Homo sapiens: one gene and its partner. The protein of the gene in region 2 purifies or fractionates together with the protein of the main gene of each other region. This does not show direct contact. Each region holds a gene or a part of one and is shown on either strand. Other genes may lie near its edges. The genes, in order: GPR143 and MLANA.

Region 1 (3,823 bases), on a different chromosome or scaffold from region 2:
CCTCCCAAGTAGCTGGGATTACAGGCACAAGCCACTGTGCCTGGCTAATATTTTAAATGTGCCTTTGGCCTCTTATAAAAATGAGCTGCTGTGGATGTTTCTAGGCGGAGGGGCCAGCTGACAGATTCTGAATGACGGTGTCTGCAACACTGCAAAATACTTTTAAACGCTCAGTGCCATCTCTTATCTTCCCTCTAAAATAGAACTAGGGCAGAAATCCCATTTCCTCGGTGAATACCTCAGTCCTGCCGATCTCCGGATCACCAGATAAGCATCCACTGCATAGCAAAACAGCCACCAGAAGCAGGCACTGTACAACAGCTGGATCCACATCTGCAATCGGGAAGAGCCTGCATCAAAATGTCTGGAAACAGGTACAAGAAGCCCAGCCCATCCTTGAGACGGCAGGGTAGACACTGGCTTCCTCTGACGTCAGGAAGCCGCACGTGACAGCTCTCGGGACACAAGTGGGCACAGTTCCTGGGACCAAGGAGGGTGTGGCCTGGGATAGGTGTAGGCATTCAGATTTGACTAAGGAACTATGCCTTCTGCTCCACTTGTATGCAGGGAGGATGAAGTTCCAAGATATGTCATTTAAACTGAGGTGCAGGCTCAAGGGGGCTTTGAACTAGATAGAAGCTCTTGTTCTGAGGAAGAATGAGTACGGGGAGGAGGGACTCAGGCAGTCCTTCCAAAGAGAAGATGGAGTAAGGGGACTCCAGTGTTAGAAACGACACAAGGTCAAGATGTCTCGCCACTGCGGGCTGAGACAGAGCCTCCATAGATGCAGTTAGGAAGCCACTGAGGACAGGGAAGCAAGGAAACTGGCAATTCTGCTCCAGCACAGGGCAATCAACACAGCATCAGGGAATGTGCTTCAAATCACTCACCTGAGCACCACCGTGACGGATGGAGCATAACATACATGTGTATGTGTGTCTGTGTATATATGATATCTATTTACTTTTTCAATAATTTGTTTATATATAATTATGTGGTTTTATTTTTTTTCTTTGAAGATGGAGTTTCACTCTGTCACCCAGGCTGGAGTGCAGTGGCGCGATCTTGGCTCACTGCAACCTCCGCCTCCCGGGTTGAAGCAATTCTCCTGTCTTAGCCACCTGAGTAGCTAGGACCATGGGCACACACCACCACGCCGAGCTAATTTTTGTATTTTTAGTAGAGACGGGGTTTCACCCTGTTGACCAGGGTGGTCTGGAACTCCTGGCCTCAAGTGATCCACCTGCCTTGGCCTCCCAAAGTGCTGGGATTACAGGTGTGGGCTGCCGTGCCCGGCTTGTATGTTTTATTTAATATATTTATGTATATATTTATACAAAATGCATCCAATGGATTGATAACTTTTTCTGTGCCAGCTGGTTTTGCTCGTGGCCCCATGTAAGCGGAGGATGCATTTGTGAAGAGGTGGGAGAAACAACACTTGAGTGTCTGGGCAGCATCCCCTGGAGGGTTTTGTTAAAACAGAGAGGGCTGGGTTCCTGATCAGCAGGATGGGGCAGGACGTGAGAACCTGCATTTCTAACAGACTCCCAGGGTTTGCTGCTGCTGCGATTTGAGGAGCATAAGTAGGGAGGAGAGGGCATGCAGAGGGGGTGGACTCACCGCACTCCCCACGCAGAAAGCAGCAGGCCAAATTTCCGTGTGGTTCATATCCGAGACGCTGTCAACAAAATTTGGGAATCCTAACCACACGGTGGACCGGATCACCATACCTAAGAGAGAATTGGATAATACTTTGTATCTGATCCTAATCAAATATAAAGCTGACTTCTTGCTTTGGAAAAATGATAGATACATAATAGATAGAGATAGGAAGAGAGGAAGGAAGAAGGAAGGAAGGAAAGGAGGGAGGGAGAGAGGGAGGGAAAAAGACAAGGAGGGAAAAGGAAGAAAGGAAGAAAAAACATACATATTTGTGTGTGCAGAGAGAGAAAAAGAAGATTGAAACTCATAAAATAACTTTTTTTTATTTTTATTTTTTATTTATCTTTTTTTTTGAGACGGAGTCTGGCTCTGTCACCCAGGCTGCAGTACAGTGGTAAAAACCCTGCTCACTGCAAATTCCGCCTCCCAGGTTTAAGTAATTCTCCTGCCTCAGCCTCCCGAGTGGCTGGGATTACAGGCACCCACAACCACGCCCAGCTAATTTTTGTATTTTTAGTAGAGACGGGGTATCACCATGTTGGCCAGGCTGGTCTCAAACTCCTGACCTCAAGTGATCTGTCCGCCTTGGTCTCCCAAAGTGGGATGACAGGCGTGAGCCACCGCGCCTGGCCTGAAACTCAGAAAATAACTTATGGTAGCAAAACAAACGCAGGCACTTTAACGCAAACCATAGTTGGCCACAGTCTCATCCCTATTTTGTTTGTCTGTTGGTTTACTTGCAATATGTGACTAGCAATCTGGATTTCTCGGCTGCATTTTCAGTGGCCATATTAGTTATTCCTCACATAAAAAAGAATTTTTCAAAAAGCACAATTTAGAAGTTTGAATATATAGTTCCTTCATTCTTTTTTAAACACAACATTTAAAATTTTCACAAATTAATTCTCAATAATTTGCCTTTAACATTTATTCTTTGTGAGTTTCTCTTGCTATTAGACCCAAATGTCTAATATCCTCAAAACAGTATGCACACTCATGGTACATATTATGGTTCTTTGTTAGGTAATGCAATATCCGTTGTTTAAAAGTACACTAGGGTCTGAGCGCGGTGCTCACGCCTGTAATCCCAGCACTTTGGGAGGCCAAGGCCGGCGGATCACTTGAGCCCAGGAGATGACACCAGCCTGGCAAAACCCCATCTCTACAAAAATACAATAATTAGCTGGAGGTGGTGGCACGCGCCTGTGGTCCCAGCTACTCAGGAGGCTGAGGTGGGAGAATCGCTTGAGCCCGGAAGGCGGAGGTTGCAGTGAGTCGAGATCGCACCACTGTACTCCAGCCTGGGCGACAGAGTGAGACCCTGTGTCAAAAAGAAAAGAAAAGTAAAGAGCCTGGCATGGTGGCTCACGCCTGTAATCCCAGCACTTTGGGAGGCTGAGGTGGGTGGATCACCTGAGGTCAGGAGTTTAAGACCAGCCTAGCCAACATGGGGAAACCACATCTCTACTAAAAATACAAAAATTAGCCAGGCACGGTGGTGGGCACCTATAATCCCAGCTGCTCAGGAGGCTGAGGCACAAGAATCGCTTGAACCTGGGAGGTGGAGGTTGCAGTGAGCCAAGACTGTACCACTGCACTCCAGCCTGGGCGACAGAGTGAGACTCCATCTGAGAAAAAAAAAAGTATGCTAGGTAATATAAAGGGGAGAACTGTAAACAACACCAAGCTACATACTATGTAGTAGTGCTCACTGGTAAACATGCCATACACCACTAAACACACACTGTGCAATACACTACTAAAATCACACCATATAATATGCAACACACACCATGCGATACACCACTAAACAAATGCTACGTAATATACTACTAAACACATACCATGTAATATACCACTAAACACACACTATGTAATACACTACTAAACGACAACTGTGAACACTAAAAAGCTCAAGACATCTTCTCATTATCAAGCCACTGCCAACAAAAACAATGCCTTTCTTCTGTACGGTGCCTTAGAATTTTCAGCATTTATCACTCCTTTGAGCTTAATAAAAGCCCTATCCCATGGGCATTGAAATTTCTTATTTTTCAGTAAGGGGTCCCGATCACCCAGCCTTTTCCTGACTTCTGCTTATTTGCTCGCAACCTCATCCACTTCCCTTCTAAAGGCTAAAGGATATGCAAGTATTATT
Region 2 (3,823 bases):
TTTATTTATTTTTGAGATGGAGTTTTGCTCTTGTCTCCCAGGCTGGAGTGCAGTGGCACTATCTCGGCTCACTGCAACCTCCACCTCCCGGGTTCAAGTGATTCTCCTGCCTCAGCGTCCCAAGTAGCTGGGATTACAGGCATGCACCACCACGCTTGGCTAATTTTTGTATTTTTAGTAAAGATAGGATTTCACCATGTTTGCCAGGCTGGTCTCGAGCTCCTGAGATCAGGTGATCCACCCACCTCGGCCTCCCGAAGTGCTGGGATTACAGGTGTGAGCCACCATGCCCAGCCATATGTAATTTTAAAATTTCTAGTAGCTACATTTAAAAGAAGAAACATGTAAAATTAATCTTAAAATATTTTGTTTAACCTAATATTTTCAGAATATTTATTTCAAGGTGAATCAATATAAAAATCATTAATGAACCATTTATCTTCTTTTCTACATACTAATATTTTTGAAATATGATATGTATTATAATACATCTTATTTCAAACTCCTGTGTTTTAAGTGTTCAATAGCACCATGTGACTAGTGGCTAAGCCATCAGACAGCACAGCTCTATACAATAAATAATAGGTACTTTATCCCTTCCCTCTGTATATATCTGCATCCATTAAAAAGGCAAATATAACTAAAAACATAAAAGAATATTGTATCCAGGACTAAATTCTTCCTTTGAATCTTACATGTAGGGCTCTCATTATTGACCCTGGAAACACTGGGTATGTGACAACACAATTAAGAAAATATCTGTACTTCCCTTGTTTTTTATTATTATTTATTTTTTATTCTCATAAAATACACATAAAAGTTGCCATTTTAACCATTTTTAGGTGTATATAGTTCAGTGGCAATGAGTACATTCACATTGTCCTTGCTTTTTAAATGGAAATAATTGTATTCACTTGAGTTAAAAACAGCCATTCATGAAAATACCCTTATGAAGGATCTTAACCTACCACAGGTTCACAGTTTTTCTCTTGAAGAGACACTTTGCTGTCCCGATGATCAAACCCTTCTTGTGGGCATCTTCTTGTTAAGGCACATTGAGTGCCAACATGAAGACTTTTATCCTGAAATGTAAATTGATAAAGGTGAGTGGGTGAGAAGAAGTAACTGAATCCATTAAAGAAAAGAGAAGGAAGCCAAAGTTTTAAGAATGAGTTTTAATCTAGGTTCTGCCACTTACTTGCTGTGTGCCTTCAGTCTCATCACTTTACCTTCTGAATTCTGAGTTTGCATCTAGGAATATAATACCTACCTACCTCTCAGAATTGCTGTGGGAATTAACTAGAAGTAAAGCTCTAGTGCAGTACCTGGGACCCAATAGTTGGTCAAAGAATATTTCTGAAGGGAAGGATAAGAAGAGTGAATCTACAAAAGGAACACTCTTGTGAAATTATCCATCAATAGTGAAGCAGAAATAAAGACTTTGTCAAGCAAAAATTGAGGGAATTCATTGCCAGTAGACCTGCCTTGCAGGAAACTTTTGAAGTTCTTTAGAGAAAAAGAAAATAACATAGGTCAGAACCTTGTACCTACATAAAGGAAGAACATCCAAGAAGGAATAAGTGAAGGTAAAATAAAAACTTTTTTTTTCTTTTCTTTTCTTTTCTTTTTTTTTTTTTGAGACAGAGTCTCACTCTGTTGCCCAGGCTGGAGTATAATGGCACGATCTCGGCTCACTGCAACCTCTGCGTCCTGGGTTCAAGTGATACTCCTGCCTCAGCCTCCTAAAACTTTGTTTTTCTTTCTTTCTTTTTTTTTTTTTAAGAGACATGATCTTGCTAAGTTGCCTAGGCTGGTCTTAAACTCCTGAGCTCAAGCAATCCTCCTGCCTCAGCCTCTGAGTAGCTGAGACTATAGGCATGCACCACTGCACCCAACATATTTGTCTTATTCTTAGTTGATTTAACAGATAATAGTTTGTTCAAAAATGAATAATAGCAACAATGTATTTAATTAGGTATGCTTATATATACTTGAAATTAATAACAGCAATGATACAAGGGAAAGGAATGTTAACAGAAAGAAAAAAACTGCAAAATATTTTAAAGAGGTTTATTCTGTGCCGATATGAATGACCATGGCCGGGAGAATAGTCTCAAGAGGTCCTGAGAAAGTGTGCCTGAGGTGGTTGGGTTATGATTTGGTTTTATATGTTTCAGGAAGACAGGAATTGTAGGTAAAAATCATAAATCAATACACGGAAGGTATACATTGGGTCAGCCTGAAAAGGCAGGACATGGCAAAGCAGAGACTTACAAGTCACAGGTGGGTTTTAGGTATTCTTTAGTTAGCAGCTGGTTGAAAGAGTTCAGCTCTGTCTTAAGACTTGAAGTCAGTATAAAGGAATGCTTAAGGTAAGGGAGTCTGCAATCTGTCATGTGATGCTATACCAGAGTCAGTTTGGAAAGTATACCACATTATATGGGGTTAATTAAAAAAAAATTTTTTTATGGTTTGAAGGGCATGATTTAACCCTTTCCTTGCATTGTCTTGTTCCTAATTTGATATTGCCACAAAGAGTTCATTCTGTCAGTCCTGTAATCTCTATTTTAAAATTAATGCTGGTCAGTTGTACCTAAAACTCTAAAAGGGAGGGAGTATAATGAGGCATCTCTCACCTCCCTTCCCGTCATGGCCAACACTCAGTTTTTCAGGTTTCCCTGGGGTCCCCTTGGTGAAGAGGGGGTCCATTCAGTTGTTTGGAGGATTTAGGATTTTGTTTTTAGTTTACAGGAGGAAGGAATTAGGATTATTTTAAGATACTCATAATGCCTATGAAATGGTATAGTGTTATTTGAAAGTGGATTTGAATTAGTTGTAAATGTATGTTGCAAACTCTAGGGAAACCACTGAAAAAAAGTAAAAAAGAAGTATAAGGCCGGGCACGGTGGCTCACACCTGTAATCGCAGCACTTTGGGAGGTCAAGGCGTGTGGATCACGAGGTCAGGAGATTGAGACCATCCTGGCTAACACAGTGAAATGACATCTCTACTATAAATACAAAAAATTAGCCAGGCATGGTAGCGGGCACCTGTAGTCCCAGCTACTTGGGAGGCTGAGTCAGGAGAATGGCATGAACCCAGGAGGCAGAGCTTGCAGTGAGCCCAGATCATACCACTGCACTCCAGCCTGGGCAACGGAGTGAGACTCCGTCTCAAAAAAAAAAAAAAAGAAGTGTAACTGGACTGGGCGCGGTGGCTCACGCCTGTAATCCTAGCACTTTGGGAGGCCAAGTGGGTGGATCACTTGAGGTCGAGTTCCAGCCTGGCCAACATGATGAAACCCCGTCTCTACTAAAAATACAAAAATTAGATGAGCATAGTAGTATGCACCTTTAATCTCAGCTACTCAGGAGGCTGAGACAGGAGAATCACTTGAACCTGGGAGGCAGAGGTGGCAGTGAGCTGAGATCGTGCCACTGCACTCCAGCCTGGGCGACAGAGTGAGTGAGATTCTGTCTCAAAAAGAAAAAAGTATAACTGATATGCCAAGAAAGGAGAGAAAATGGAATCATATAAAATGTCCAGTGAAAATCACAAAAGGCAGAAAAAGAGTAAAGACAAAAATAGAAACAAAGAACAGAGGCAACAGGTAGAAAACAGTAACAATATGGTAGATATCAATCCAACTATATCAATAACTACTTTGAATATCAATGGTCTAAATGCACCAATTAAAAGACAGATTGTCAGAGTGGATCAACAAACAAGACCCAACTATGTGTTCTCTACAAGAAACCCTCTTTAAATATAAAGACACATACATGTACATTAAAAGTAAGTGGATAGAGGCCAGGCATGGTGG

What was found.
Region 1: the proteins of MLANA (region 2) and GPR143 purify together in Homo sapiens (co-immunoprecipitation; one study listed by IntAct). This does not show direct contact.

What each region holds. Positions count from the first base shown.
Region 1 is NC_000023.11:9,759,094-9,762,916, forward strand, and holds part of GPR143 (G-protein coupled receptor 143), read right to left. Parts: intron 1,734-3,823; coding exon 1,624-1,733; intron 334-1,623; coding exon 239-333; intron 1-238. UniProt on the Homo sapiens protein: Receptor for tyrosine, L-DOPA and dopamine.
Region 2 is NC_000009.12:5,904,144-5,907,966, reverse strand, and holds part of MLANA (melanoma antigen recognized by T-cells 1), read right to left. Parts: intron 1,083-3,823; coding exon 969-1,082; intron 1-968. UniProt on the Homo sapiens protein: Involved in melanosome biogenesis by ensuring the stability of GPR143. Plays a vital role in the expression, stability, trafficking, and processing of melanocyte protein PMEL, which is critical to the formation of stage II melanosomes.